4 linked regions of the Homo sapiens genome follow. The protein of the gene in region 3 purifies or fractionates together with the protein of the main gene of each other region. This does not show direct contact. Each region holds a gene or a part of one and is shown on either strand. Other genes may lie near its edges.

Evidence for each region.
Region 1: the proteins of SCGN (region 3) and BBX purify together in Homo sapiens (affinity purification with mass spectrometry; 3 studies listed by BioGRID and IntAct, with this or other methods). This does not show direct contact.
Region 2: the proteins of SCGN (region 3) and ATF2 purify together in Homo sapiens (affinity purification with mass spectrometry; 3 studies listed by BioGRID and IntAct, with this or other methods). This does not show direct contact.
Region 4: the proteins of SCGN (region 3) and ESYT1 purify together in Homo sapiens (affinity purification with mass spectrometry; 3 studies listed by BioGRID and IntAct, with this or other methods). This does not show direct contact.

Annotation. Positions count from the first base shown.
Region 1 is NC_000003.12:107,798,934-107,805,961, forward strand, and holds part of BBX (HMG box transcription factor BBX), read left to right. Parts: intron 1-2,161; coding exon 2,162-2,348; intron 2,349-6,436; coding exon 6,437-6,524; coding exon of another isoform or gene 6,525-6,594; 3' UTR 6,595-7,028. UniProt on the Homo sapiens protein: Transcription factor that is necessary for cell cycle progression from G1 to S phase.
Region 2 is NC_000002.12:175,158,192-175,165,219, forward strand, and holds part of ATF2 (cyclic AMP-dependent transcription factor ATF-2), read right to left. Parts: intron 1-7,028. UniProt on the Homo sapiens protein: Transcriptional activator which regulates the transcription of various genes, including those involved in anti-apoptosis, cell growth, and DNA damage response.
Region 3 is NC_000006.12:25,683,199-25,690,226, forward strand, and holds part of SCGN (secretagogin), read left to right. Parts: intron 1-5,973; coding exon 5,974-6,019; intron 6,020-6,274; coding exon 6,275-6,334; intron 6,335-7,028.
Region 4 is NC_000012.12:56,131,267-56,138,294, forward strand, and holds part of ESYT1 (extended synaptotagmin-1), read left to right. Parts: coding exon 1-50; intron 51-210; coding exon 211-300; intron 301-482; coding exon 483-538; intron 539-942; coding exon 943-1,066; intron 1,067-1,154; coding exon 1,155-1,331; intron 1,332-1,452; coding exon 1,453-1,535; intron 1,536-2,150; coding exon 2,151-2,199; intron 2,200-2,321; coding exon 2,322-2,408; intron 2,409-2,514; coding exon 2,515-2,607; intron 2,608-2,813; coding exon of another isoform or gene 2,814-2,843; coding exon 2,844-2,915; intron 2,916-3,075; coding exon 3,076-3,162; intron 3,163-5,477; coding exon 5,478-5,627; intron 5,628-5,951; coding exon 5,952-6,107; intron 6,108-6,232; coding exon 6,233-6,409; intron 6,410-6,565; coding exon 6,566-6,648; intron 6,649-6,759; coding exon 6,760-6,808; intron 6,809-6,916; coding exon 6,917-7,006; intron 7,007-7,028. UniProt on the Homo sapiens protein: Binds calcium (via the C2 domains) and translocates to sites of contact between the endoplasmic reticulum and the cell membrane in response to increased cytosolic calcium levels.

The sequences.
Region 1 (7,028 bases), on a different chromosome or scaffold from region 3:
AGGTCAGGAGATCGAGACCATCCTGGCTAACACTGTGAAACCCCATCTCTACTAAAAATACAAAAAATTAGCCGGGCCTGGTGGTGGGTGCCTGTAGTCCCAGCTGCTTGGGAGGCTGAGGCAGGAGAATGGCGTGAACCCGAGAGTCGGAGGTTGCAGTGAGCCGAGATCGCGCCACTGCACTCCAGCCTGGGCGACAGAGTGAGACTCTGTCTCAAAAAAAAAAACAACAACAACAAACACAAAAAAATCTCAGAATGTTTTAAGAAAGTTTACGAATTTGTGTTGGGCTGCATTCAAAGCTGTCCCCAGCCACATGCAGCCTGCAGGCCATGGGTTGGACAAGCTTGCTTTAGACAGAGATAACCAGAGCAAGCAGATGACCACCATGTCAGCAAATGACTGTAAGCAACTGTGGTTCCTACTGAAAAATGAGTCTATTCTGCAGCTTTCTACAGACCTCCAAACATGTTTTATTCCATGTTTAAAATCATAGCTAGTTTTCCAAGAGCATATCTGAATTCCTAGAAAAGAAAGGTAGTTTTTAGGACTGTCATCTTCCCTTTATCTTTCTCAATGTGCACAAAAGCAATCTTAATTCCAGGAGATCCTATACTTTTAAAGATACTAGATGAATCAGTATTTGACCATGGTCTGCTGTTCGGGTCACTACAAGCCAGATTACCAGGCATTCAAACCAGTAGATTAAGCTTAAAATGCATCCAACATTCACTTCCTATATAACTGGTTTAGACCATGCAGGGAGCCTGAGAATGCTTCTGGATTTCTTGAGTTATCTGATTTAATTCACCAACTGGTGAATTTCTCCATTTTCAATCATGGCCTGTTGTCTGTTTGCTGTTCCTGGTAGCCTCTTTGGCAGTAGAATGACCGGAGGAGCCCAAGGTAAGGGGTGTGGCCGAAGAGTGATACTGAGACCCCCCGGCCGCAAAATCTTGGAGTGCTATACCAGCTAGGTACTAGTGGCCTTGGCTGTTGCCTTTCTGCCTCTCAGCACCTCCGCAATTTTATTTTATGTGATTTGGGTTAATCTAGGTGTTAATAGAGGGGAACTGTTTGCTTAGTTAGAGGACAGTTTATGAATTTTGTGCACTTCTTTTGTGTGTTTTGAATATTTAGATTGTTAGAAACATAGAGTATATTAAAGGCCCTGATTTTGCCCTGTCATATAAGAGAAAAAATTCAAAGAGGTGGAAGTTTTTGTTTGAGTACATTCAATACAATAGAAGTAGAATGAGGACTAACACCTAGATGTCCTGATGTTTAGCCCAGCAGTCCCCTCCCTCCTTTTCTGTCCAATCTGAGTTCTGTTCTGTGACTTTCATTTTGTAGATTGTTACATCCACATTTGTTTTCACTTGGAGGAGGAGTGAAGAAATATGAGAACAGTCCCATTTACATAGAAAAGTGTCATACCACTTTTGTGTCCTAATAGATAATATTTAAAGCTTTTATCAGTCATTTTCTATATTTACAATTTTTTTAAAACTATGATAAAAATTTCCCTTCTCTATAATGGCTACATAAGAAAGAAAGTATACTCATTTGTAGCAGGCATACTTGCACAGCATTTCATCCACCTCTTTGTAAAGACCAGAGGGCTTTGTCTTCTCTCCAGTAGGTCTTTAGAACAAAATAACAACTTGGGCTCTCATTAGAACTGGTTAATGTGCTGTATAGGCCATCCTAAGTGTTGGTATCACAGCATACCCAATGTCCAAGTTGCCATAGTAGGGCATGCTACAGCTTCATGAGAAATGCTTAGTCAGTTGGGTTTTTAAGGGCTCTTTTACAGCATCTACAGGCCCCTCTACAGAAGTCCCTTGGGTTTTATTTTAGCTGAGGCTCATTTTTCCTTCTCACTCCAAGACTGACCCATTCTTTGACCTCAGATAAAACACAGCTTCTCTTCAGCTCAGCCTCAGGGCACAGTGCTGTCCATAGTTGCAACTAAGCTTAATAAAAGAGCTTTGTTACTGAGGAGAAGAGATTCTGTAAAAGCCTTAATATTCGATGGATAGCAAAAGTGAATGGTAGAGAATGTTAGCTCTTTTCATGTTGACTGGCACAGCGTTTTCTATGTCTCTTCTCTGGAGAGAACAGAGTGATCCTCTCATGATGGATTTCTCTTTTGTTACAGATGACAAACCAAAGGAACAACTGCAGAGGAGTCTCCCTAAAGCAACTGAGACAGACTGCAATGACAAATGCTCACACAACACCGAGGTCGGGGAGACGCGGAGCAGTACTCCAGAAATGCCTGCCGTGTCTGCGTTCTTTAGCCTCGCTGCGCTGGCTGAAGTGGCAGCCATGGAAAATGTGCACAGGTTAGTGGTAGAAGGTGGAAGGAGAAAGCAACATGGAAACCAGATCAACCTCTTTGATGTGATTTGTGACATTTTTTACAGGGCATTGGGGTTCAAACTTGGTTCAAGAGCACTATTGGTTATATGAGGTATTACAAAAGCATATATGCTAATTAGCAGTGCGGGAAAATACCAGGGAATATAGTCAGCCAAGTATTTTATTTTGAATATGTTATCCTGTGGCTAAACTTCATTTCCGTAAAAAGCCTGAGAGCAGGGAAGCAGTATTATCTGACCAATGAGCTTTGGAGTCCCATTGCAGACTGAGGTTTGAGTCCTAGCTCCATCACCTGCAAACCGAAAGATCTTGACCAAGATTATTAACCTCTCTACCCTTGGTTTTTTTCCTCTAAAAAAACAGGGGCAGGTGGCACTCATTTCACAGAGATGTTATGTGGGGTAACTCTAGCATCCCAGTGCTGGTGTGTGGAATGCCCCTTATTGGTGATGGTGTTGGTGCCATCACCAGCCATCAGAAGACAGTGCAGTTCAAGGGAAAGAGCATTTTGGCATCTGACTCATGGCAGCCAGAGGCCTGGATTTTTCTTCAACTCTTCTGTGATTTCCTACAAAGTAATTTTTTTCTCTGGACTTTAGTTTTCTCAGCACACATTGAGCATAGTGATATCGCCAAAGAATTACGAAGTTGTAAGCATCAGACGAGATCATAGATGTGAAAACCCTTTGAACTCAGCGAAGCCCCACAGAAAGTATATTAAGTTCTAAGTGTATAATTGGGTATTCTGCTACTTAATGGATCCTTTGGGAAGGCAAAAAAGCCTGTTGTAAATTCAGGTATTTTATATTCCTATTCAAAGTGGATTACCCATGGATGAGCTGCTTTCTTAGACTTTCAGTCTTCAGTACAAAAGAGCTCTCAACCCAGTGCAGCTTGTGTAGCCAGCTGTAGGCCCCATGCTCCTTTTTGACATCCAGGTAAACCTGGAGTCCCCTGACGTGAGCTTGGTTTGCTTCTTGCTATTTACCTGTCATATTACAGTTTGAGTACTTCCTCACAAATAGCCTCTAGATATTTCCAAGAAGTCAAATTCCTCTTTATGTGTACACTGCAAGTTCCTAATAGCAAGTGAATGCTCACAGACATTGTTAAAATTCAGTGAGGTCTCTGAGGGAGACAATGCACAGATACTTCTCCATTTGTGGAGTTGTGCAGTCAAGGATAGAGGACAAGCACATACACGTGCAGTGAGAACTTAAAATATCTGCCTGAATGTTATTAAGTGTCCCTGTGAATTGTGGAAATAAGAGGGAATCTGAGAATTGAGAGAGGGATAATAATTCAAGGGTAGGAAAAGGCTAGCACATAAGCAGCTTGGCTGCTGCCTGTGTTCTAAGCGTGGTCACACCGTTGCTCTGTTAACCAGCCCTCCATGGTTCCCAATTTGCATCAGCAGAAAGCCACAGCAAACCTTTCCAATCTCATTGTCTCTGCCCTCCACACTCCCTACCCTGCAGTTAGGTGGAATCACTTACCCCTTTCCAGATACGCCAAGCTCTTGCCTTGTACATCCTCTGATCAGGTGAACTGCTCTCCTTCTCCCCACCCTAGTCCCCGGTCCTCTTCTCTCAGTCCTCCTGATGCCCTAGGCTGTGTGTTTCTTGTTGCTCCTGCATGCTATGCTCACACCTCTCTCAGACCACATTGGGATGTATTGATTTGTCGATACTTCTGTCTACTTTCAGTATATTTTGAAAGCAAAACAGTGGTTTTATTCTCTATGTTACCAGCTTGCTTAGTTCCTGTTATAACAATTGATAAATGAACAAATGAGTGGGTGAATGAATAAATGAGGTAGTTTCTGAAGTATGACTGCCTAAGTTAGATAACAGGTATAGAAAAAATAATGTGAGTAAAGATTCTTTTTATTTTTTTTAACCTTCCATTAGAAAGAACAGTAATGATTACTAGAATTTTACCATCAACCTAATAAATGGTTAGTGTTCTTAATAGCTAGAAGGACAGATCACCCTGGAGAGTCTTAGCTGTAACTTGAGCCCCTACCTGTTAAAGCAGATCTACCCACCAGGCTTCTACCTGTAGGCTCACTGTTATTGAACCTGGGTTGCATACCAATGAAGTAAGCATTACTTCAGCATCAACTCGGTTCATAGTTTAAAGGGTGGCCCATGGAGTTAGGGGTGGAAATATACGACCTGCACTCATGCCATGAAAAAATCTAACGTTAGGTTCAGAAACCTAACTTAGACAGTTTTACAAAATACACAAAATAGAGAGTTGGAACAAACCTTTGTTAAGAGACCAGTTTATTTACTAGAAGTTAAATTAGCCCTCCCAAGTGGGCCTTTTTAGTCCCATTTTAATGACCGTTAATTAACTTGCCAAGAGCACACAGCCAATTTGTGCCCAAGTCAAGATTTGAACTCCTTATCTCGCGTACTGCCAAAGGAAAGCTTCAGTCATGTCAGAGAAAATCATGAAGAATCTCACCTGACCCTTCCTCTGGGAGCTAGAATCATCAGTTGCAGCACATAGTCCTCTCCCACTGTGATTCTGACTTCTTTCCTTTTTCCATTGATTTAGCTGGACTTTCACCCCAATTTCTCTCTCCTTCTTGCCATCTTTTTTTACATTGCACTTTTCATCTTTTTTGTTTTTTTTTTTCCTTTTCTAATACTTATTAAAATTCTTTTGGGTCTTTTAATATCTTAAAAGTAAAAAGTAGCATTTTAATTTCATCTTTCTTGAACAAAGAGCTGAACATATTGAACAGGTGGTATCTATAACATCCACATGTGAATAGCTTAATCCAGAGGTTTGATTCTAAAATGTTTTGCTTTTCTAAAATCCTAAATATCTTGGGCTATTAAGTGATCATTTGATTCTGAAACCCCCAAATGTTGCAATTTGTCTACATTATTTTTCTTTTTTGTGCATCAAGAGAAACTTGAGTATAGTTATAGAGCAGGTACAAGCTAAATCTTGAAATAGCTCCTTTTGTTCTATGTACTCTGAAGAAGATACGATTTTGAAAGGTCATCCCAATGAAAACATTGCTGATACATCACATATTTTCAGCACAGTGTTATGCACTACAGACCATTGTAGGTTACAGAGCAGTGAGTGTGCATTTTCTAGGATTGGTAGGCCTGTTGGAAAATGTCAAGGAAGTACCCAGTCCTATCTTTTTAGAATGAGAAGCTCTGTAGAAATTACCAAGAATTTTGGACAGTTTTCTCATAACCATGAAGTAAATTGTATTTTTACTACTAATTATACAAAAGCTGAATGAAAAATCAGCTATGTTTGGCATAGGTTCTATCCAAATGATGAAAATTTCCATGAATTTTCTAGTCCTGTCTGGAGTTCTCCCTCCATGTGTATTGATTTTCACCCAACTAGGGTAGATTTTGTTAAAATCTAAAATCCAGCATCAGTGCTTGTTTTCTTCCTCTAAACACTCTCTGTCCATGTGCATGTGAGTTCAGAGGGTTTTATTGTTTCTTCATTCCTTTTTTTTTTTTTGGAGTCACAGTCCATCTCTGTTTCTCTTCCAGAGTCATTGCTTTTATTATCACTAAATTACCTGAAGGTTACCAATTACTATAGGAGAACTTTCCCTTCAGGCAAGTCAAGAAAAGGAATGTGTCATTTTTAATACCAATGGATCAACAGGAAAATTATTGTCCAAGAACCCCAGTCCTTGATTGAAATTTTCCCACTTCTTAAAGAGTTGCCCCAAATCTGTTGGTACTTAAAATTTCATCTCTTCAAAATGGAAGTGGTTAGTTGTTTGAGGCCAGAGGGTATGCTGTTGAGTTGTATGAGGGGAATTCAGATATAAAATCTTAGGAAGGGAGACAGAATGGGAAGGAGGAAGGGGAAAAAAAGGATAAGGAAGGGGACAGAAGAGAAAAAACTCTAAAGCAAAAACAGTTTTCATTAAATGATGTAAGTAACAGCAGTAACTGTTAAACAAGATATTGGAACACACTTGTTATTCATCGTCCTCTCCTGTCTCTAATAACATATGCTGAATAAGTGACTTTTTCTTCCTTTTATTTTACAGAGGTCAGAGGTCAACTCCGCTCACCCATGATGGACAGCCAAAAGAAATGCCGCAGGCTCCTGTACTTATTTCCTGCGCTGACCAGTGAAGCGCCCTTTCATTGTAAAACATTGTGCTTTACCTACTACCCTAGCCTTGTCTTTACCGAGGGATGCTAGTGAGTCCAAGTGGTGGAAAATATAGACTGCAAACAAGTGCTTGTTGCCCCACACGGCCCAGATTCACTTGAAGCAGAAGTTAGCATCCTGGGCCAGTTTGTTCTCTCAGAACCCAGAATCTTTGAGGGTAAGGTTATCTGTCTGATACTGAGCAGAAACAGAATGATCCTGGAGCTTTGCTTTCTATTGAAGGCTTTTGACGGTAATAGGTGGTAACTTGGTAAAAGGCTGCCTTTACTGTAGCTCACCCAGCATCTCTTTTACCAACCAGAGAGTGTGAAACTAGTTTCATATATTACCTAGTTATTCTTTCAAAACAAAACAAAAAAAAAACAAAAACTGACGCACTGCACTAGTTATTATTAGATATTCTTAGTCTTTTTTGTACATGGAGATTTAAGTTTAAGATGGTTTATATAATAGGTTATACCTAC
Region 2 (7,028 bases), on a different chromosome or scaffold from region 3:
GACTTCACTTGCCTCTCAAGACTAAAGTATTTTGAATTCAGGATTTTTTTTTTTTTTTTTTTTGAGACAGGGTCTTGCTCTGTAAGTACAGTGGCCCAACCATGGCTCACTGCAACCTGGATCTCCTGGGCTCAAGTGATCCTCCCACCTCAACCTCCTCAGTAGGCGGAACCACAGGTACACATGCCACCACACCCAGCTAAATTTTTTTTGGAGTGACCGGTCTCACGATGTTGCCCAGGCTGGTCTTGAATTCCTTGAGCTCAAACTCTTATTTTAAATTATCCAGGGATAATTTTAAAATGGATAACTTAAAATGGATATTTTAAATGGATAATTTAAAATAAGAGTGCCTTAAAGCTTCCTGATCCTACGGCAAGAAGCAAACGTCTGGGGGGAACACTGGAAACTGAGGTCATCTCTACAGGAACCCAAGTGGATATTTTAAATGGATAATTTAAAATAAGAGTGACTTAAAGCCTCCATTAATCAAGGCAATGATCCTCCTGTATTAGCCTCCCAAAGTGCTGGGATTGTAGGTGTGAGCCACTGCCCCTGGCCAGGAAAATTTTAAATTGTATGATTACACTATGATCCTCTACAGTAAAAAAAAAAATACATTTCAGGGCTATCAAAATATATAAAAGTAACATATGTAAAATACACAGAATAGTGCATGACACTAAAATAGTATTTATTAAGTTCATAAATTTTACTGCATTTTACTTTGACTTTAAATGTACATTTTTCTAATGCCTAATAAATACCTAATCTTACTATCTTCTTTATTTTTAAGGCCAGAAACTGAACTACATACTCAGTTTGACTTTTAGATAAGAGTTTTGGCCAGGCATGATAGCTCAACCCTGTAATCCCAGCACTTTGGGAGGCCAAGGTAGGCAGACTGCTTGAGGTCAGGAGTTCAAGACCAGCCTGGTCATCATGGAGAAACCCCGTCTCTACTAAAAATACAAAAAAATCAGCGGGGCGTGGTGGCGGAGACTATAGTTCCAGCTGCTCAAAAGGCTGAGGCATGAGAACTGCTTGAGCCTGGGAGGTGGAGGGTTCAGTGAGCTGAGAACCTACCACTGTACTCCAGCCTGCGCGACAGAGCAAGACTCCGTCTCAAAAAAAAAAAAAAGTTTTATATTAATCTTTAACCCATGATTCTGATGCTATCTGTAAGTTTATTTGATATATAATGTTTAGTTCATCAATTTAGGTAACTCAAATTCATCAGCTGAGAGAAAAATATTAAGCCCAATGTTAACAAGGAAAGCAGCAGTATTTTTTCCCCCACTCACAGCAGACATGAGAGAGGTCCTTCACACAATTCCCAAGAGTATACTAAAATTTTGATGAAATTTCTCAAAGTTGATGGTACACGTAAAAAGTATCACAAACTTCTCCAGACTGTATTATGAGTATGTGAAGAGTGAAATCAGTTCAATATCTCAAAAATATTCAATTAAAATATCAGTAGTCCAATTTTTAAATTAAATATTTTTTAAGTGAGTCTTGATTATTCCTAGGCAATGTAAAGAAAGCAAGTAGTTTTATAGTTTAAAATTATAATAGAATAACAAATACATAAATACAAAAAATTTACAGAGTAATAATTATGAATATAAACAACAGTAGCACAAGTTGTGCTAATAACATCACCTTAGATTTGGTAACAGAATTATGTGGTCTAAGGTCCATAGCATTATTTTTGCCCAAGGTAGGTGATAAAATACCTTTCATTGCTTTTTTTCTCCTGAGAAACTTATTTTTTGTAAAAGCAAAAAGAAAATAGAAATAGAAATTCAGTTCTCCAAGAATTACAGTAATTCATAGTCATCACCATTATGAAAAATACATCAATAAAAATTTCTCATTATGAAGAGGGCACAAATAAAATACACTACCGGCTTGGTGTGGTGGCTCACGCCTGTAACCCCAGCGCTTTGTGAAGCTGAGATGGGAGGATTACTTGAGGCCAAGAATTCAAGACCAACCTGGGTAACATAGTGAGACTCCATCTCTACAAAAAATTAAAAAATTAGCTGGGTATAGTAGCACATGCCTGTAGTCCCAGCTACTCGGGAGGCTGAGGTGGGAGGATTGCTGAAGCCCAGGTGTTTGAGGCAGCAGTGAACTACGACTGCACCACCACACTCCAGCCTGGGTGATAGAGACCCTGTCTCTAAAAATGAAATAAAGTAAGACTATGGATTATGTACTATGCCCATTAAAACAATGATAAGCTCACCTCTTTCTTCCGTTTTCAAAGTATGTCAAAATTCAAGTAAGTAAAGTGTATTACTACAAAAAATATCCCTCGACCCAACATCCATATATCAACAATCATTAAAACCTACCTTACAAATGATAAAATATTTCACTGATTCTCAACTTTGTGGCCAAAAATTGATAGTGTAGTTATAATTGTATAATTAGCAGAGACTTCAAAACAACTTTAGAACTGTGGTATTTTAATCATAATCTCAATCCCACTATGGGGAAGGAGAAATGAAAGGTTTCCCTAGAATGTTTATAATAGGATTGGTGGAGTAGAAGAAAAGAATAGTTGGGGTGGGGAGCAGCCTGTAATCCCAGCACTTTGTGATACTGAGGTGGGAGGATCGCTTGAGCCTGGGAGTTTGAGACCAGCCTGGGCAACGGCAAGACCCCATCTCTACAAAAATTTAAAAACTAGCTGAGTGTGGTGGCATGTGAGTGTGGTCCCAGCTATTTGGGAGGCTTAGGTGGGAAGATCTCTCGAGCCCCAGAGGTGGAAGCCGCAGTGAGACTTAGTCGCATCACTGCACTCCAACCTGCATGACAGAGTAAGACTTTGTCTCAAAAATACAAAGATAATTGGATTTTATGAAAATCACAGTATCATAATTTTATCATCTTAAAATAAGGATATGCTATACTGAAGGAATTTGATACAGAAAATGTCTGAGAAGGGGTACATATGGAACAAAAAAATATGAGACATTCTCTCAAATGAATTTACGAAAATTCTAAGGTGGCATGTTCCTCCACAAATTATAAATTCTTAGGGAAAAATAACTTTGTTGCCAAAGCTACCAAGTAGATGGTTGCTGTACTGCTTTCAAGCTACAGCACAAGCATGCCTGGAGGGCTAGGCTAGATTATTTCTGAATGAACTTCAATAATAATTCCCACAACACAAACTGAGTACTCATTAAGTTCTTGACACTGTATTAAGTATTGTATATATATCACATGAATGCTCACAGCAAGACTATGAGTTAAATTATTCTCCTTAAAGAGAAGGAAACTGAGGCAGAGAGGTTATATAATTTACTCAAGATAACACAGTAAGTGGTAGACCCCTGATAATCTGGCTTCTAATAACTATCCTAAAATATTGATTACACACTTAACTATGTGCCAGGGACAAAACTCAGTCAATTTGGCTATCATATACTCATATACACTTTCTTTATTCCAAGTGTTTCCTACATGGAAATGAATTTGTCATTATAAATCTTAATAAATCATAATGACACATTCATAAGACAGAACTATGAAATGTATAGTTCAGAAAGTAACTCTTTTTTTTTTTTTTTGAGACACCGTCTCGCTCTGTTGCCCAGGATAGAGTGCACTGGCGTGATCTTGGCTCACTGCAACCTCTGCCTCCCAGGTTCGAGCAATTCTCCTGCCTCAGTCTCCCGAGTAGCTGAGATTACAGGCACCCGCCATCATGCCCAGCTAATTTTTGTATTTTTAGTAGAGATGGTGTTTTCTCACATTGGCCAGGCTGGTCTCGAACTCCTGACCTCAGGTGATCCACCTGCCTAGGCCTCCCAAAATGGTGGGATTACAGGCATGAGCCACCATGCCCAGCCCAGAAATTAACTCTTAAACTAGCATTAAAATACTCAGTGTACAAACCACATAAAACTGCATGAAATCTAAGAATTATTGTTACCAGTCTGTCAAAAGTTTTGGTAAACTTTAAAAGAAACAAAGACAGTAAAATGTCAGAAAATATGAAATACACAATATTTGTCACATCACATAGATCACTGGTAGATAAATAACTATAGTATGATATGGCCAACTAAATAATTTTAAAACTGCTAAATAATACAACTTATTCCCAGAAATAATTCCCAATTAGGTAATCACGCTTCATTAATCATAACTCCCAAGTTCACAAAAGTATGGCAAAGCTAACGCATTCATGCTCTGCTGACAGTGTAAACTCGCTCAAGTCTTTGGGGAGGCAAAAATCTGGCAACTGTAGAAACATTTATATCCTTTGACTAGTAATTCATTTGAGATTAGTATCCTATAGAAACAATTCATAAAAGAAAAAATGCACAGAGATGTTCAATTCAATGTCAAAATAGGCATAAACTGAAAACTATTATTTTCCTGTCAGGCATTTAGAACAAATTTAATACTTATTTTTCAACTATCAAGTAACAATCAAATATCATAAAGGTTATACAACATGGAAAAATACAATGCTATAAAAGTAAAATAAAACTTATTTGATATAATTCTGTAAAAACTGCAATATATATGCACAAACTAGAAGAAAACAAAAATAATGAACACAATTATTTGTTAGTATGGCAAAACAAGTTGATATATAAAAAAATTGTTCCGACACGTTTAATAAATAAAAGCAGGCTGGGTGCAGTGGCTCATGCCTGTAATCCCAGCACTTTGGGAGGCCGAGGTGGGCGGATCACAAGGTCAGAAGATCGAGACCATCCTAGCTAACACGGTGAAACCCCGTCTCTACTAAAAATATTAAAAAATTTGCCGGGCGTGGTGGTGGGTGCCTGTAGTCCCAGCTACTTGGGAGGCTGAGGCAGGAGAATGGCATGAACCTGGGAGGCGGAGCTTGCAGTGAGCCAAGATCGTGCCACTGCACTCCAGCCTGGGCAACAGAGCGAGACTCTGTCTCAAAAAATAAATAAATAAATAAATAAATAAATAAATAAATAAATAAATAAATGCAAGCAAACATACTAGCCCGAACAGTAAAATTAGAAAAACCAAAGCTATAACATTGGAGCAAAGCTAAAAAAATTAGAATGACAAAGGTTTCGGTTCTGCTAGCAAACTAAAGAATATTTAGGGAATATATTTATAAACTTATGGTCAATATTATAGATAAAAATACTATATATTACAAAAATAACCAAAGTCCATATGGTATTTTGCCAATTACAATTATTTCTCCCTGTCTTTCCCTACCAGTCTTGTTGAGAATCTCTGTGGTAATAAGCCACTACTACTGTTGGAAGTATTTTGTATTCCTTGGGTAGAAAGGCAAAAAAGTGGCTGAGAACCACTATCTTTGTTAAGATACAGAATGCAAATATGGGTGAATAGGCAAAGCCCCCAAAACATTGTTTACATCTCTTCTTTACTGTCAATGTCAAAATGCCAAGGAAAAAAAATCAATAAACATACTTAAAAAATGAAAAATGATGCTGGGTGGTGGCTCATGCCTGTAATTCCAACACTTTGGGAGGCCGAGGCAGGTTCGAGACCAGCCTGGCCAACATGGTGAAACCCCGTTTCTATTAAAAATACAAAAATTAGCCAGGTGTGGTGGCGGGCACCTGTAATCCCAGCTACTCAGGAGGCTGAGGCAGGAGAATCACTTGAACCTGGGAGGCAGAGGTTACAATGAGCTGAGAGCGGCACTGCACTCCAGCCTGGGTGACATAGCAACTCCGTCTCAAAAAAAAAAAAAAGAAAAGTGAAAATGAATACACTAGTTTCAAGGTTGCCAACAAGAATAAATTGAAAAGATATATATAATGAATACATATTTATTTATAATTATATAATATGTAACATTAAATACACCTGTAACACAATGTGTAAAAATAGGCCCGGGTGCAGTGGCTCATGCCTGTAATGCCTTAAAAGTGAAAATGAATACACCAGTTTCAAGGTTGTCAAAAAGTCTCAACAAATTGAAAAGACACATATAATGAATACATATTTATTTATATTTATATAATATGTAACATTAAATATATTTATATTATAAAATAATGTGTAAAAATAGGCCTAGTGTAGTGGCTCACGCCTGTAATCCCAACACTTTGAGAGGCCAAGGCGAGTGGATCACTCGAGGCCAGGAAGTCGAGATCAGCCTGGCCAACATGGTGAAACCCCATCTCTACTAAAAATACAAAAATCAGCAGGGAATGGTGGTGCACCCCTGTAATCCTAGTTATTCGGGAGGCTCAGACAGGAGAACCGCTTGAATCCGGGAGGTGGAGATTGCAGTGAGCCAAGACTGCACCACTGCACTCCAGCGTGGAAGCCAGAGGGAGACTCTGTCTCAAAAATAAAATAAGATAAAATACAATTACTGATGGCCTTAAAGATCCACAAATTTCCTTGATTTTCTATGAAACTATCTTATACCTTACTATATAACCTTTTAACCTTGAGAAACATAACAAAGGAAATAAAATGTTCTCTGGGGTTTTCCTTCAAATAGAAATAGGTGAATACTATCCTACTACTTCAACATTAAAACTTACATAAAGAGAACATGCAGCATTTTAGACAAGTTCTTAGCCTTGAGGAACAGGTGTGAGTATGAGATAAACACAGAAATACTAAATTAAACTCCAGATTATAACAATACTAAGTGAATTTTTTGGTTTTTGTTTTGTTTTGAGATGCAGTCTCATTCTGTTGCCCAGGCTAGAGTGCAGTGGCACGATCGGCTCTCACTGCAGCCTCCTGCTCCTAGGTGCTAGCGATTCTCCTGCCTCAGCCTCCCCAGTAGCTGGGATTGCAGGCGCCTACCAACGTGGTTTCACCATGTTGGCCAGGCTGGTCTTGAACTCCTGACCTCAGCTGATCCGCCTGCCTCAGCCTCCCAAAGTGCTGGGATTACAGGCGTGAGCTACCACACCTGGCTAAGGTGGGATTTTTTTTAGGGTACATTTTAATTATACAAAATAACCCAACAGGTGCTATATGCATTGACTTTTATAAAAATCAGTTGAATATTAATT
Region 3 (7,028 bases):
TCGCCTCTGCTCCCTGGATCCCACCTGGTTCTCTTGGTCAATGGAGGCAGGGTTCCTCTCAAGTAGAGGTCAGAGAGCTATGTGAAAGAGCCAATCCCAAAGCCACCAAAGGATTCATTCAATAGATGACAATCTAGATGAAAACAAAAGCTTGCAATCTCATGGTTCCCTTCACCAAAAGCATCTATCCACCTGTGCCCTGACTCAGTTGTGCACGTCTCAGAGGTAGTGAGAGTTGAGGAGCCCTGTGTGCCCTGGGAGGCTGGGGTAATAAAGGGCTCAGAGCAGCTGCTCTCTGCCCTCTTAGTCCATACACAATATGACCTACCTATGTATACAATGCTAAAATAACTAACATCATGCACAGACTGTAACATATAAAGGAGAAATAAAAGGAAAGCAGTTAATGATAAAATAATGCACATTTCAGTGTATAAGTGCTTGCATACAATCATAGTGAAGATATAGTGAAGTGGTCAGATGCTTTCACCTGGGTAGAATTATCATAAATGGGGCAGCTCAGATGCCGACTGATACAATTGTGACATTTTGGTAACTCAGGTGCTGTTGATATGATTTTATGAAATAATAAGTCTTGACAGAGTTCCAAATGAGACAAAGTATGTTAATCTCTTAACACAATTCATATACCATGTGGAAAATTTATGTAAGTAGTAAATTATGCAAACCTTGAGTTTTATGCAAATAAGAATTCAGTTCCAAGCACAAATAATTAAAAGCAGGGTTTTTACAGTCACGATTGCCCCCTGGACATTTGAAATTCAAGTGAGACATGGGGCAATTCTTCATTCTGCAGAAATTTCCATGCAATGCCAGAAACCTAATATCCCTAGCCCTATGTACAAAATGCTAGTTGTGCCCCCTTTATCACTGTGATAACTAATAGGGCCTTCTGCATGAGTCTAAACACTCTGTAGAGGCGGGTTTGCTATGGTCCTGCTGGTAGGGCAGGGACTATGCTCTAATCCCTTGAATAACTTCTCACTTGGTGGAGTGTTGTGTACTTGGGGGGATTCAATGAGTAGTTGTGAATTGATGGAGTTACAGTAGCACTGAACAGAGATGAAAGGCAGCAAAATCAGTTAGTATAGTACAGTCTTCCCTAAGTATCCTCTGGGGATTGGTTCCAGAACCTCCGCGGATACCAGATACCCAAATCCTCGGATGTTCAAGTCCCACAATTGGCCCTGAAGAACCCACAGATAGGGGGTGCCAAGTGTATTTCAAAACCAGTTTGATACGGAATTTGAAAATGTGAACTGTGGTAAGCAGAATAAAGATGTCCACGTCTTAGGCTGGGTGCAGTGGCTCACACTTGTAATCCCAGCACTGTGGGAGGCCGAGGCAGGTGCATCACTTGAGGTCAGAGTTTGAGGCCAGCCTGGCCAGCATAGTGAAACCCTGTGTCTACTAAAAATACAAAAAATAAAATAAAATAAAATTAGCTGGGTGTGGTGGTGCATGCCTGTAGTTCCAGCTCTTCAAGAGGCTCAGGCAGGAGAATCGCTTGAACTCAGGAGGCAGAGTTTGCAGTGAGCCAAGATTGCGTCACAGTACTCTAGTTAGGTGACTGAGCAAGATTCTATCTCAAAAAAAGAAAGGAAAAAAAAGATATCCACATCCTAATATCCAGAACTGGTGACTATTTTATGTTACATGGCAAGAATGAATTAAAGTTGCAGATCTAATTAAGTTTGCTAATCAATAGACTTTAAAATAGAGATTATTCTGGATTATCCACATTGGGCCCAATATAATAACAAAGATCCTTTAAATATGGAAGAGGGAGGCAGAAGGTCAGAGTCACGGAGAGATTTGAAAATGCTAGTTGCTGGCTTTAAAGTGGAAGAAGAGGCTAAAGAATGTAGGCAGCCTCTAGAACCTGAAAAAGGCAAGGGAAAGGATTCTCCCCGAGAACCTCCAGAAGGAATGAGGCCGTGTCGACAGCTTGAATTTTGCCCAGTGAGATCGATTTCAGACTTCAGCTTCTAGTGCTGTAAATGATTATGGTTATTTGAAGCCACTATGTTTGTGGCAGTGTGTCGCAGCAGCACTAGGAAACTAATACAACAACAAAGAGGCCTTAAAACATTTCCAGATAGGATTTTTCTCTCTCTACTTTCAGCTGTGAAATGCAGTTCAATTCCTCTACATAAAAGCACCTCCCAAGTAATATGTGCTGTGACTGGCAACATGATTTAGGCTGCCTGGTGCCTGCAAATACTAAGAACAATATTCCTGGCAGACCTCCAGGATATTCTGTCTTCTAATTGGCTCAAATTAATTCCCTCTACTCTGAGCATTTGGAGGAGCAAAGATTTTCCACATAGTTGTATTACATTTTTTCTACTTTTTCTATATATCCTCATGACTATGAATACAACATAAATCTAATGTTGAATTTACTGAAACTGACTGTATTCTATTAAAGTATAATTATAATTATAATTATACAGAAAAGAGGCAGACATATTTGCTTTCTAAAACAAAAACAAGATTATTTTAAAATTGAGACATAATTTATGTACCTTAAAGTTTACCCTTTTAAAGTCAGATCTACCAATCTACAATTTGGTAGATTTTAAGATATTCATAAGGTTGTCCAACCATCACCAATATCTAATTTTAGAACATTTCATTATGCCAGAAGGATACCCAGTACACATCAGCAGTCACTCCTCTCTTCCTCCTCCCACAAGGCCCTGGCAACCACCAATCTACTTTCTATTTCTATCGACTTTCCTATTTTGGGCATTTTATATAAATGGAATCACACAATATGTGCCTTTCCTATCTGGCTATTTCACTTGGAGTAATGTTTTCAAGGTTCATTCATGTTGTAACTTTATCCCTTTTTATGGCTGAATAATAGTCCCTTGTATGTACATACCACATTTTGTCCATTCATCAGCTGATGTTCATTTGAGTTGTTTTCACTTTTTAGAGATTATGAATAACGTTGCTACATGTTTTGGGACAAATATACGTTTGTGATTCTCTTGGTTATATATTAAGGAGCAGAATTTTTGGTTCGTGTCGTAATTTTACATTTAATTTTCTGAGGTACTGCCAAAGTGTTTTCTAAAGTGGCTGCACCATTTTACATTCCCACCAACAATGTATCAGGATTTTAATTTCTCCATATTCTAATCAGCACTTGTTATTGTTTGCATCTTTCTTTTAATTATAATCATCCTAGTGGGTGTGAAGTAGTATGTCATTGTGATTTGCATTTCGAACATTTTTTATGTTTTATTGGCAATTTGTATGTCTTCTTTGGAGAAATGTCTGTTCAGATTCTTTGCCCAGTTGAAAAATTGGGCGATTTGTCCTTTTGTTGTTGAACTATAAGAGTCCTGTATATATTCTGTGCACTAGACACTTATCAGATGTATAATCAGCAAAAACTTTTTTCCATTATGAGAGTCGTGTTTTCATTTTCTTGATGATGTCCTTTGAAGCACAAATGTTTTTAATTCTCATGAAGTCCAATTTGTCTAATTTTTTTGGTTGTTTGTGTTTTAGATGTCATATCTAGGAAGCCATTGCCAAAATCCAAGCTCATGAAGATTTACCCGTTTGTTTCCTTCTAAGAGTTATATAAACTATAAAGTTTCTGTTTTATGTAAATCCTTTTCATGTTAATTGTTTAATACAGTGTAAGGTGGGGGCACAATTTCATTATTTTGCATGTAGATATCTACTTGTCCCAACACCATTTCTTGAATATTTTTCCTTACTGAATGGTCTTGGCACCCTTTCTGAAAATAAACTGGCCATATGTATGGGTTTATTTCTGTACTCTCAATTCTATTCCATTTATCTACATATCTGTCCTTATGCCAATATCACACTATCTTGATTCTGTAGATTTGCAGGCAAATTTTGAAATAAAAAATGTGAGTCCTCAAACTTTGTTCCTCTTTTTCAAGATTGTTTTGGCTATCCTGGTTCATTTGCATATTCACATTAATTTTAGGACCAGATTGTCAATTTCTGCAAAAAAACCAATTCAGATTTTGATGGGGATTGTTTTGAATCTGCAGATCAATTTGGGAAGTGTTGTCTCCTTAAAAATATTAAGTCTCCCAGTGTATGAACATGGGATGTCTTTTCATTTACTTAGCTCTTTAATTTCTTTCAACAATGTTTTGTAGTTTTCGGTCTACAAACTAAACCACTTTTGTTAAATTTATTAAATATTTTATTCTTTTTGATGCTATCATGAAACGATTAGTATTCTGAATTCCACTTTTGGACTGCCCATTGTTAATGTATAGAAATGTCATTGAATTTTTTATATTAATCTGGTATTCTGCCAACATGCTGGATTTGTGTATTAGCTCTAGTAGTTTTTTGTTGGATTCCTTAGGATTTTCTATATACAATATTGTATCATCTATAAAGAGATAGTTTTACTTCTTTCTATTCTGCCAATCTCTGCTTTTAATGGAGTATTTAATATGTGTATATTTAACGTGATTACTGAGAAGGTAGGATTTATATTTGCTATTTGTTTCTCTTTGTCTTAAGCTTTTTTAAAATTCTTCTGTCCTTCCATTACTGCCTCCTGCACGTTCAACAGACATTTTCCAGTGTACTATTTTAATTCCCTTATTATTTGTTTTGCATTTTTTTTGAGTTATTTTCTTAGTGGTTGTCTGCTAGATTACAATTAACATCTTAATTTATATCAAATCTAATTGTGGATTAATAACAATTTAATTTCAATATTATACCCCAAATTTTACTTCTGTATAGTTCAAATGCCTTTCTCCTCCTTTCTGTTGTTAAAATTTTATCTTTATATATTGTGTGCTCCACAACATAGATTTTTAGTTATTGTTTTATGAAATTGTCATTTAAATCAGAAAGCAAAAAAGTTACACACAAAAAATACATTTATGCTGTGTTTTATATTTGGTTATATATTTACCGCTCCTGGTGCTCTTTATTGTTTCATGTGGATTTAAGTTAATGTCTAGTGTCCTTTAATTTCAGCCTGAAGGACTCCCTTTAGTATTTCTTATAGGTCATGTTTCTGGTGTATTGATGACTTTTGTTGTTTATTTGGTGACTTTTCTGAACTAATTCTATGAAGTCTATATTCTTTGTCAGGTGTGTCCACTGAAGTCTCTGCTAGGTTAGTTCAATGGTCAGTTCATAATTGGACAGAGATTTTCTAAAATGTCTTGAACCAGTAAGTCTCCCAGTCTCTTGCTAACGGGCTCTGTGTATGTGTTAGGGCAAGTTAAATGCTACGACAGTCATTGTTCTAACCAAGATTCAGCTGTTTTGGAGGCCCGGTGCCGTGGCTCACGCCTGTAATCCCCGCACTTTGGGAGGCCGAGCCCGGCGGATCACGAGGTCAGGAGATCGAGACCATCCTGGCTAACACGGTGAAACCCCGTCTCTACTAAAAATACAAAAAAATTAGCCGGGACTGGTGGCGGGCGCCTGTAGTCCCAGCTACTTGGGAGGCTGAGGCAGGAGAATGGTGTGAACCTGGGAGGCGGAGCTTGCAGAGAGGCGAGATCGCACCACTGCACTCCAGCCTGGGCGACAGAGAGAGATTCTGTCTCAAAAAAAAAAAAAAGATTTTTTTCAGAATAAACACTCCCCAGATTGCTGCAAGACTTTAATTATTTTCCAGAGCTCTGGGAAAGTTATTTTGACTATTTTTTCCAGTTTTATGGAGGAGCGAATTTCCAGAAGCCCATACTGTGCCATTTTCCACTAAGATGAACTTTTAAAAGTCTATGGTGACTACTAATCTCTACGAGTTTTTCCCAATTAATTTCTTTGTTTCTGTGATGTAGGAAGTTCTGTCTTTCAAGTACCTATTCTGTTCTGCAGGAAATTGCCTGTACTTTCCACACACCAGGGCTATAAGTTTTCGTATAACTGAGAGCTGAACGATCCTTACGTGGATTTTTTTTTTTTTCTATTTAGGATTCTGGCTCTTCAGGAAAACTTCCTTCTCCAATTTAAAATGGATGTAAGTAGTGACATTTCTCTAGATGGGTTTATGTCATTGCTGTTTCTCTACGGATTTGAGCAGGAAAGAAGAAAGGAAGGCATCTATTTGCCCTACTTTTTAACTTATTTAGAAAACAGACAAGGATCAGCATGGAATCAAGGGATCTTAAAGGTCATTGACTCAAAGTTTACAAAATTTGCCCAGGACTCTGGAAGAATTGTACAGCTGAATTGTCACATTGCTGGACTGACATAATGTTTTTTCCTTACACAGGCTTGTTCTACTGAAGAAAGGAAAAGGGACTTTGAGAAAATCTTTGCCTACTATGATGTTGTAAGTGTGCGTCTTTATACTGTGCTGGCCATCTCTGAGTAGGAAACTTATTTAACCCCTATGTGGAGCCATCTTACCCAACAGACCCTAAACTTACATGATGAATACCAATCCCATCTGTGTGTTCTAGGTCAAGGTACTCTCAACTCCTCTAGACCTTCTGAGAATAAAGTAAAAGTAGCCAAAGGAGTACACATGGTTGAGAAGAGAAAAAAATGACTTTTTTTTTTGACTCCTTGGGCCTAAACTATAAGTTTTCTCCCTCTTGTAGGACTAAGAGTTCATTTATAATATCATACACAAAAACATACAACCCTCCCACCCAATATTCAACCCAAAGAAATAGAGGAAAAGTCATACCTATTTATCATAAAAACTATTTTTTCTTGTAGAACCAATTATTTGATGAAAAGGGGAGAATATAAAAATTATAAGTACAAAGTATGGCAAAGAGATTGAATTTCCTAAGGACATGATAGTATGATGTAAGAAGGAAGAAAAGTAGAAAAGCAGAAAAAATGTTGGGAAAGGTTATAAGGATGTTTCCCTGAAACTAATCAGACTAGATAATTATGTGTCATGTTCTGAGCAGAAAACAGTATCACCTGGGAGAGGCAGTCTAGCATAGAGGTGGTTAAACACGTGGCTTCTGTGACCAATTACCTAGGTTTGAATCATGGCTTATTACCTATGT
Region 4 (7,028 bases), on a different chromosome or scaffold from region 3:
ATGTGGAAGTGAAGAAATATTTTTGCAAAGCAGGAGTCAAGGGCATGCAGGTAGGCCAGATGTCAGGGGCCACATAATAGGGAATGTTTGTCCTGCGTTTCATGGGATATGGGGAAGTGTGAGGTTGGAAAGACCAAGGCTGAGAAAGTCTGGGAGGACAGAAGAGGGACTTTTCTGGGGAAAGGCTTTGATTTTCTCTTCTTGCCTCAGCTACATGGCGTTTTGCGGGTGATACTGGAGCCACTCATTGGGGACCTTCCCTTCGTGGGGGCTGTGTCAATGTTCTTCATCCGACGCCCGGTAAGGGAAAACAATGAAGGGGTATGGGGAAGCAGGAGAAACAGAGGACTGGGAGGATGAGGGCAGCCAGTGAAGGGGAATGAGAAGGGAACTGACAAGAAGGCCGAGGGGTTCTGGCAACTGTTTGATGGGTATGACCACACCCCATAGGATCTGTCCTGACCCCTGCTCTTTCCCTCCAGACCCTAGACATCAACTGGACAGGGATGACCAACCTGCTGGATATCCCAGGACTTAGGTATCAAGGACTTACTGAGCACCTGCTGAGTGTTCCAGCGCTGGGTTGGGGGTTTAAGGGACACAGAGCAGTCAAAGATGCTGCTTGTGTCCTCTAGGAGCCTCAACTTCATTTGGGGAGCAAAGACAAATACCCCTGCAAAGTTTGATACTGTGATTTTTCTTTGGGTTGGGGGAGCAGGAAGGGAATGCAGAGGGCTGAAGACTGCAAAAGGCAATGGGGATGGCAGTGAAGAAGGGAGAGAGCAGTAGGTGGGGAATTAGGGTAGAAGAGTAGCACAAAGGATTTTCACAAAAGGACTTTCTTACAGCTTTAGGTCTCTCTTGGGTGTGGGAAACATAGTTGGGGTTAGGAGAAAATTGGAAGTTGAGGCCATACCCACTCCTTTCTACTCCCCCATTCAGCTCACTCTCTGACACCATGATCATGGACTCCATTGCTGCCTTCCTCGTGTTGCCCAACCGATTACTGGTGCCCCTTGTGCCTGACCTTCAAGATGTGGCTCAGTTGCGTTCCCCTCTGCCCAGGGTATGGCCTTTCCCCCACTAGATAGATCCTTCTCTCAGGAACCCCTTGCTGGGTCCTTAGTTTCTCACCATCTGATTCCTTCCTCCAGGGCATTATTCGAATTCACCTGCTGGCTGCTCGAGGGCTGAGTTCCAAGGACAAATATGTGAAGGGCCTGATTGAGGGCAAGTCAGACCCATATGCACTTGTGCGTTTGGGTACCCAGACATTCTGCAGTCGTGTCATTGATGAAGAACTCAACCCACAGTGGGGAGAGACTTATGAGGTGGGAGAGTTGAGCAGCTCTGTGAAATGGGGAAGCCCCAGGAGGTTGTGAGAGAAGATGCTGATTGGATGATCCTCACAGCTGCAGCCCCATGAGACACTCAGCCTTCTGTGTTCCCCAGGTGATGGTACACGAGGTCCCAGGGCAGGAGATTGAAGTGGAGGTGTTCGACAAGGATCCAGATAAAGATGACTTTCTGGGCAGGTGAGACTCTGCCTGTTAGGATTCTAAAGCCCATGCTGGCCAGGCACGGTGGCTCATGCCTGTAATCCCAGCACTTTGGGAGGCTGAGGCGGGCGGATCACGAGGTCAGGAGATTGAGACCATCCTGGCTAACACGGTGAAACCCCATCTCTACTAAAAATACAAAAATTAGCCGGGTGTGGTGGCGGGCGCCTGTACTCCCAGCTACTCGGGAGGCTGAGGCAGGAGAATGGTGGGTGAACCCGGGAGGAGGAGTTTGCAGTGAGCCGAGATCGCGCCACTGCACTCCAGCCTGGGCGACAGAGCGAGACTCTGTCTCTAAAGAAAAAAAATAAAAATAAAAAAAATAAAGCCCATGCTACCGAGGTTCTGGAGGTAATTATACTCACTTTCTGGGCCTGGGAATCATGTATCATTTTCCTTCCTAACCTCCCCACCCCCAGCCCCTACCATGCACATACTCACGCATGCAGGTGAATATCTTCTGAGAGGAATAAGGGAGTCTGAGATCTGCCAGTCATTTCTGGGTGGGTGAGTGGAGGGCCACTGACATGCTGCTAATTACAACACTACCCTTTTCTTCCTTTCACTACCCTCTCCCCCGCCAACCCTCAGAATGAAGCTGGATGTAGGGAAGGTGTTACAGGCTAGCGTTCTGGATGATGTAAGTTGGGAGAAGAGGAAGGTGGGGGCTGATCTCACCCTTTGGGTAGATAGTAGTTGCTACATTGGTAGGGAAGTAGTTGAGCAGGTATCTGATCTCTACTACATCTCAATTTCTTCTAGTGGTTCCCTCTACAAGGTGGGCAAGGCCAAGTTCACTTGAGGCTAGAATGGCTGTCACTTTTGTCAGATGCAGAGAAACTGGAGCAGGTAAGCCACATGGGAAATAGGAAGCTGGCAGGGGAGAAATAGGTAGCTGGAAGTGTAGGGGACTTGGAACGGGGACCAAGATCTGACTACTACCACCCCTCCCCAGGTTCTACAGTGGAATTGGGGAGTCTCCTCTCGACCAGATCCCCCGTCAGCTGCCATCTTAGTTGTCTACCTGGATCGGGCCCAGGATCTTCCTGTGAGTTTGGCTGGGTGAACAGGAGCCCTGGATGTAACATTCCCCAACCCTGCCTTGCTGAGGATGCAAATGTCCCTGCCTGCTTTGCTCCAGAAGTATCAGCATGTAACATAAGGGTCCCAGGGAGGGGATCAGATCCATCTCAGGGAAAGGATTCTGATGCGATCCCACCTTCCTTCACCAAAACCAAAACCGAATCCCCCAAGATGGTGACCTCTGAATTGTACCCACCACAGCTGAAGAAGGGGAACAAGGAACCCAACCCTATGGTACAACTGTCAATTCAGGATGTGACTCAGGAGAGCAAGGTGAGGGCCAGGACATCATTGTGGGTGGCCAGGTAGGACAGGGAGAGGCCTATTCTTGGGATGGTTTCCCCTTTAGAATGCCTGTTACATGCAGGGGTTTTCTGCAGAAACAGGAATGGTGCTGTGGTATACACCCTTAATCCCTCCTCTACATCTCCAGGCTGTCTACAGTACCAACTGCCCAGTGTGGGAGGAAGCGTTCCGGTTCTTCCTACAAGACCCTCAAAGCCAGGAGCTCGATGTGCAAGTGAGATAATCACCTCTTCATCCCCTCCCGAATACCCTATTCTGACTTCCCAGATCTGTACCATTTCTCCTCTCCTTCTTTTCCCTTGATTCCTATTTTTAATCCATCTACCTAGACTCCCCACCTCCCTGAATATCTCTCCATTGTTCCCCAACTGTCGCTCCAGAATAATATTTTTTTTTTTTTTTGAGATGGAGTCTCGCTCTGTTGCCCAGGCTGGGGTGCAGTGGTGCGATCTCGGCTTACCGAAACCTCCACCACCTGGGTTCAAGCAATTCTCCTGCCTCAGCCTCCCGAGTAGCTGGGATTACAGGCAGGCACCACCATGCCCGGCTAATTTTTGTATTTTTAGTAGAGACAGGGTTTCACCATGCTGGCCAGGCTGGTCTCGAACTCCTGACCTCAGATGATCCGCCTGCCTCAGCCTCCCAAAGTGCTGGGATTATAGGCATGAGCCACTGCACCTGGCCTTAGTTCATAGGTACTTGTTCTTGAATGATTTTATATATGTGTGTCTTGTCTATGAAACTGGCCAGTAAGCATTGTGAAAGCAGATGCTATGTTTCGTGCTTTCTCCATGACCTTTAAAATGCTGAATGTTAACAATTTTATTGAGGCATAATTTACATACCATAGAATCACTCATTTTAGGTATACAAAAATTATTCTGAGGCTGGGCACGGTACCTAAAATGAGTGATTTTATGGTATGTAAATTATGCCTCAATAAAATTGCTAACATTCAGCATTTTTTTTTTTTGAGACAGTTTCGCTTTTGTTGCCCAGGCTGGAGTGCAATGGCGTGGTCTCGGCTCACCGCAACCTCCACCTCCTGGGTTCAAGTGATTCTCCTGCCTCAGCCTCCTGAGTAGCTGGGATTACAGGGATGTGCCACCATGCCTGGCTAATTTTTTTTGTATTTTTAGTAGAGACGGGGTTTCTCCATGTTGGTCAGGCTGGTCTCGAACTCCCAACCTCAGGTGATCCGCCCGTCTCAGCCTCCCAAAGTGCTTGGATTACAGGCGTGAGCCACCGTGCCCGGCCCAACATTCAGCATTTTAAAGGTCATAGAAAAAGCACAAAACATAGTATCTGCCTTCACAATACTCACTGGCCAGTTTCAGTTTCATAGACAAGACATACACATATAAAATCATTCAAGAACAAGTACATATGAACTAAGGCCAGGCATGGTGGCTCACACCTGTAATCCTAGCACTTTGGGAGGCCAAGGCAGGTGGATCACCTGAGGTCAGGAGTTTGAGAATAGCCTGGTCAGCATGGTGAAACCCTATCTCTACTAAAAATACAAAAATTAGCCAGGCATGGTGGTGCGTGCCTGTAATCCCAGCTACTTGGGAGGCTGAGGTAGAATTGCTTGAGTCCGGGAGGCGGAGGTTGCAGTGAGCCAAGATAGCGTCACTGCACTCCAGCCTGGGTGACAGAGTGAGACTCCGTCTCAAAAAAAAAAAAAAAATCAAAAATTTGCCAGGTGTGGTGGCATGTGTCAGTAATCCCAGCTACTTGGGAGGCTGAGGCAGAAGAATCATTTGAACCCGGGAGGTAGAAGTTGTAGTGAGCTGATTTCAAGCACTGCACTCTAGCCTGGGTGACAGAGCAAGACTCTGTCTCCAAAAAAAAAAAAAAAAAAAAAAGGAACAGAAGAATAGCAACAATTACATATGAATTTGTGGGAGTAAAATATCCATAGTATAGGACTAAGGAGGGTCAGAGAAAGGGATAGGCTGGAGTAACTAGGGAGATTTTGTGAAGCAAAAAATTGGATTTTAATTGAGTCTTGAAGGATGAGTAGGATTTAAATAGGCCGAGGGAAGAGAATGAGGACTTTCCAAATAGTGGGAGCAGAATGAACAAAGGTGGAAGGGGCCATGGATTGGGCAGAGGACTATAAAAGATGGCTCTGGCCGAGGTGGGCGGATTGCCTGAGCTCAGGAGTTTGAGACCAGCCTGGGGAACACCATGAAACCCTGTCTCTACTAAAAAATACAAAAATTTAGCTGGGCGTGACGGCATGCGCCTGTAGTCCCAGCTATTTGGGAGGCTGAGGTAGGAGAATGGGTTGAACCCAGGAGGTCGAAGTTGCAGTGAGCCAAGATGGCGCCATTGCACTCCAGCATGGGCGACAGAGTGAGACTCTGTCTCAAAAAAAAAAAAAAAAAAAAGATGGCCCTGAGTGGAGCAGGAGGTTTGTGATTGGTACAGAGAGGAATGAAGTTGGAGCCATGTTATCATTTTCACAGTATGCCTCCCTTTCCCCTAATCCCTTCACTACAGTCCTTCCTCCTGTGCCTGTAGGTGAAGGATGATTCCAGGGCCCTGACTTTAGGAGCACTGACGCTGCCTCTGGCCCGCCTGCTGACTGCCCCAGAACTCATCCTGGACCAGTGGTTCCAGCTCAGCAGCTCTGGTCCAAACTCCAGACTCTATATGAAACTAGTCATGAGGGTATGGAAATAGAGGAGGTACTGAGGTGTGGGGGAAAGGCCTGTTGATTCTTTGGTATTAAGAGTAAGGAAAGGGACCCCCCTAAGATTAAAAGAGCTAATACATGTAGAAGTGCCAAGCAGGCACAAAAACATATATTGATCTGACTGGTGGAAGGAATGGCTTATGAGTTGAGGGGGTGTGGAGGGAACCCTGTAGAGATGAGCCCAGCCAGGGCAGCACCTAGTTCCCCTGTCACAGCCCCTCCTCTACCCCACCCCACATGCTTTGCCTGCTGGTGACGAGCTGCACTTCTTTGATTCAGCATCATACTACCCTTCCTAGATCCTGTACTTGGATTCATCAGAAATATGCTTCCCCACGGTGCCTGGTTGTCCTGGTGCTTGGGACGTGGACAGTGAGAATCCCCAGAGAGGCAGCAGTGTGGATGCCCCACCTCGACCCTGTCACACGACTCCTGATAGCCAGTTTGGGACTGAGGTGAGTCTATATCTGGAAAGGACTAGGGTCTGTTTGCCCCGCTAAGTATGCAAAGCCTGTTTCAGGGCAGATTCTGACAGGTCTCTCTCCCTTTGCCATCTGGCACCCCCCCGTCCCTTTTGCAGCATGTGCTTCGGATCCATGTATTAGAGGCCCAGGACCTGATTGCCAAAGACCGTTTCTTGGGGGGACTGGTGAAGGGCAAGTCAGACCCCTATGTCAAACTAAAGTTGGCAGGACGAAGCTTCCGGAGCCATGTTGTTCGGGAAGATCTCAATCCCCGCTGGAATGAGGTTTTTGAGGTCAGAATTGAGTGGCTGTGACTCCTGGTTCTGCCCCATTTTTCCCCCAATCCCAAAAGTGGTCCAGAAACCTCTGAGGTTCAGTTGACTGGGGGGTCCAGTCATTTGCAGAGGAAAAGGAGAGAATCTTTCATCTGCACTATTTTCTCCCACTAGGTGATCGTCACATCAGTTCCAGGCCAAGAGCTAGAGGTTGAAGTCTTTGACAAGGACTTGGACAAGGATGATTTTCTGGGCAGGTGAGAGCATAGGAGTCTACGTGAAAAACAGGCTGGGGCTCTTTAGGCCATGGAGTCTGGCCTCCTTGGTTCTCACCATCTAGCTTTTGTCTTAATCTTTCTCTTCAACAGGTGTAAAGTGCGTCTCACCACAGTCTTAAACAGTGGCTTCCTTGATGAGGTGAGCATTGAATTAGAGTCAACAACCCCTCCTGATCCTGCCCAAGCTTCATTCTCAAAGTTCTCCTGTCTGCATATCCCCAAGTCTTCACCCTGCCTACTTCCACAGTGGCTGACCCTGGAGGATGTCCCATCTGGCCGCCTGCACTTGCGCCTGGAGCGTCTCACCCCCCGTCCCACTGCTGCTGAGTTAGAGGAGGTAGGGCAGGAGACTTGAGGAA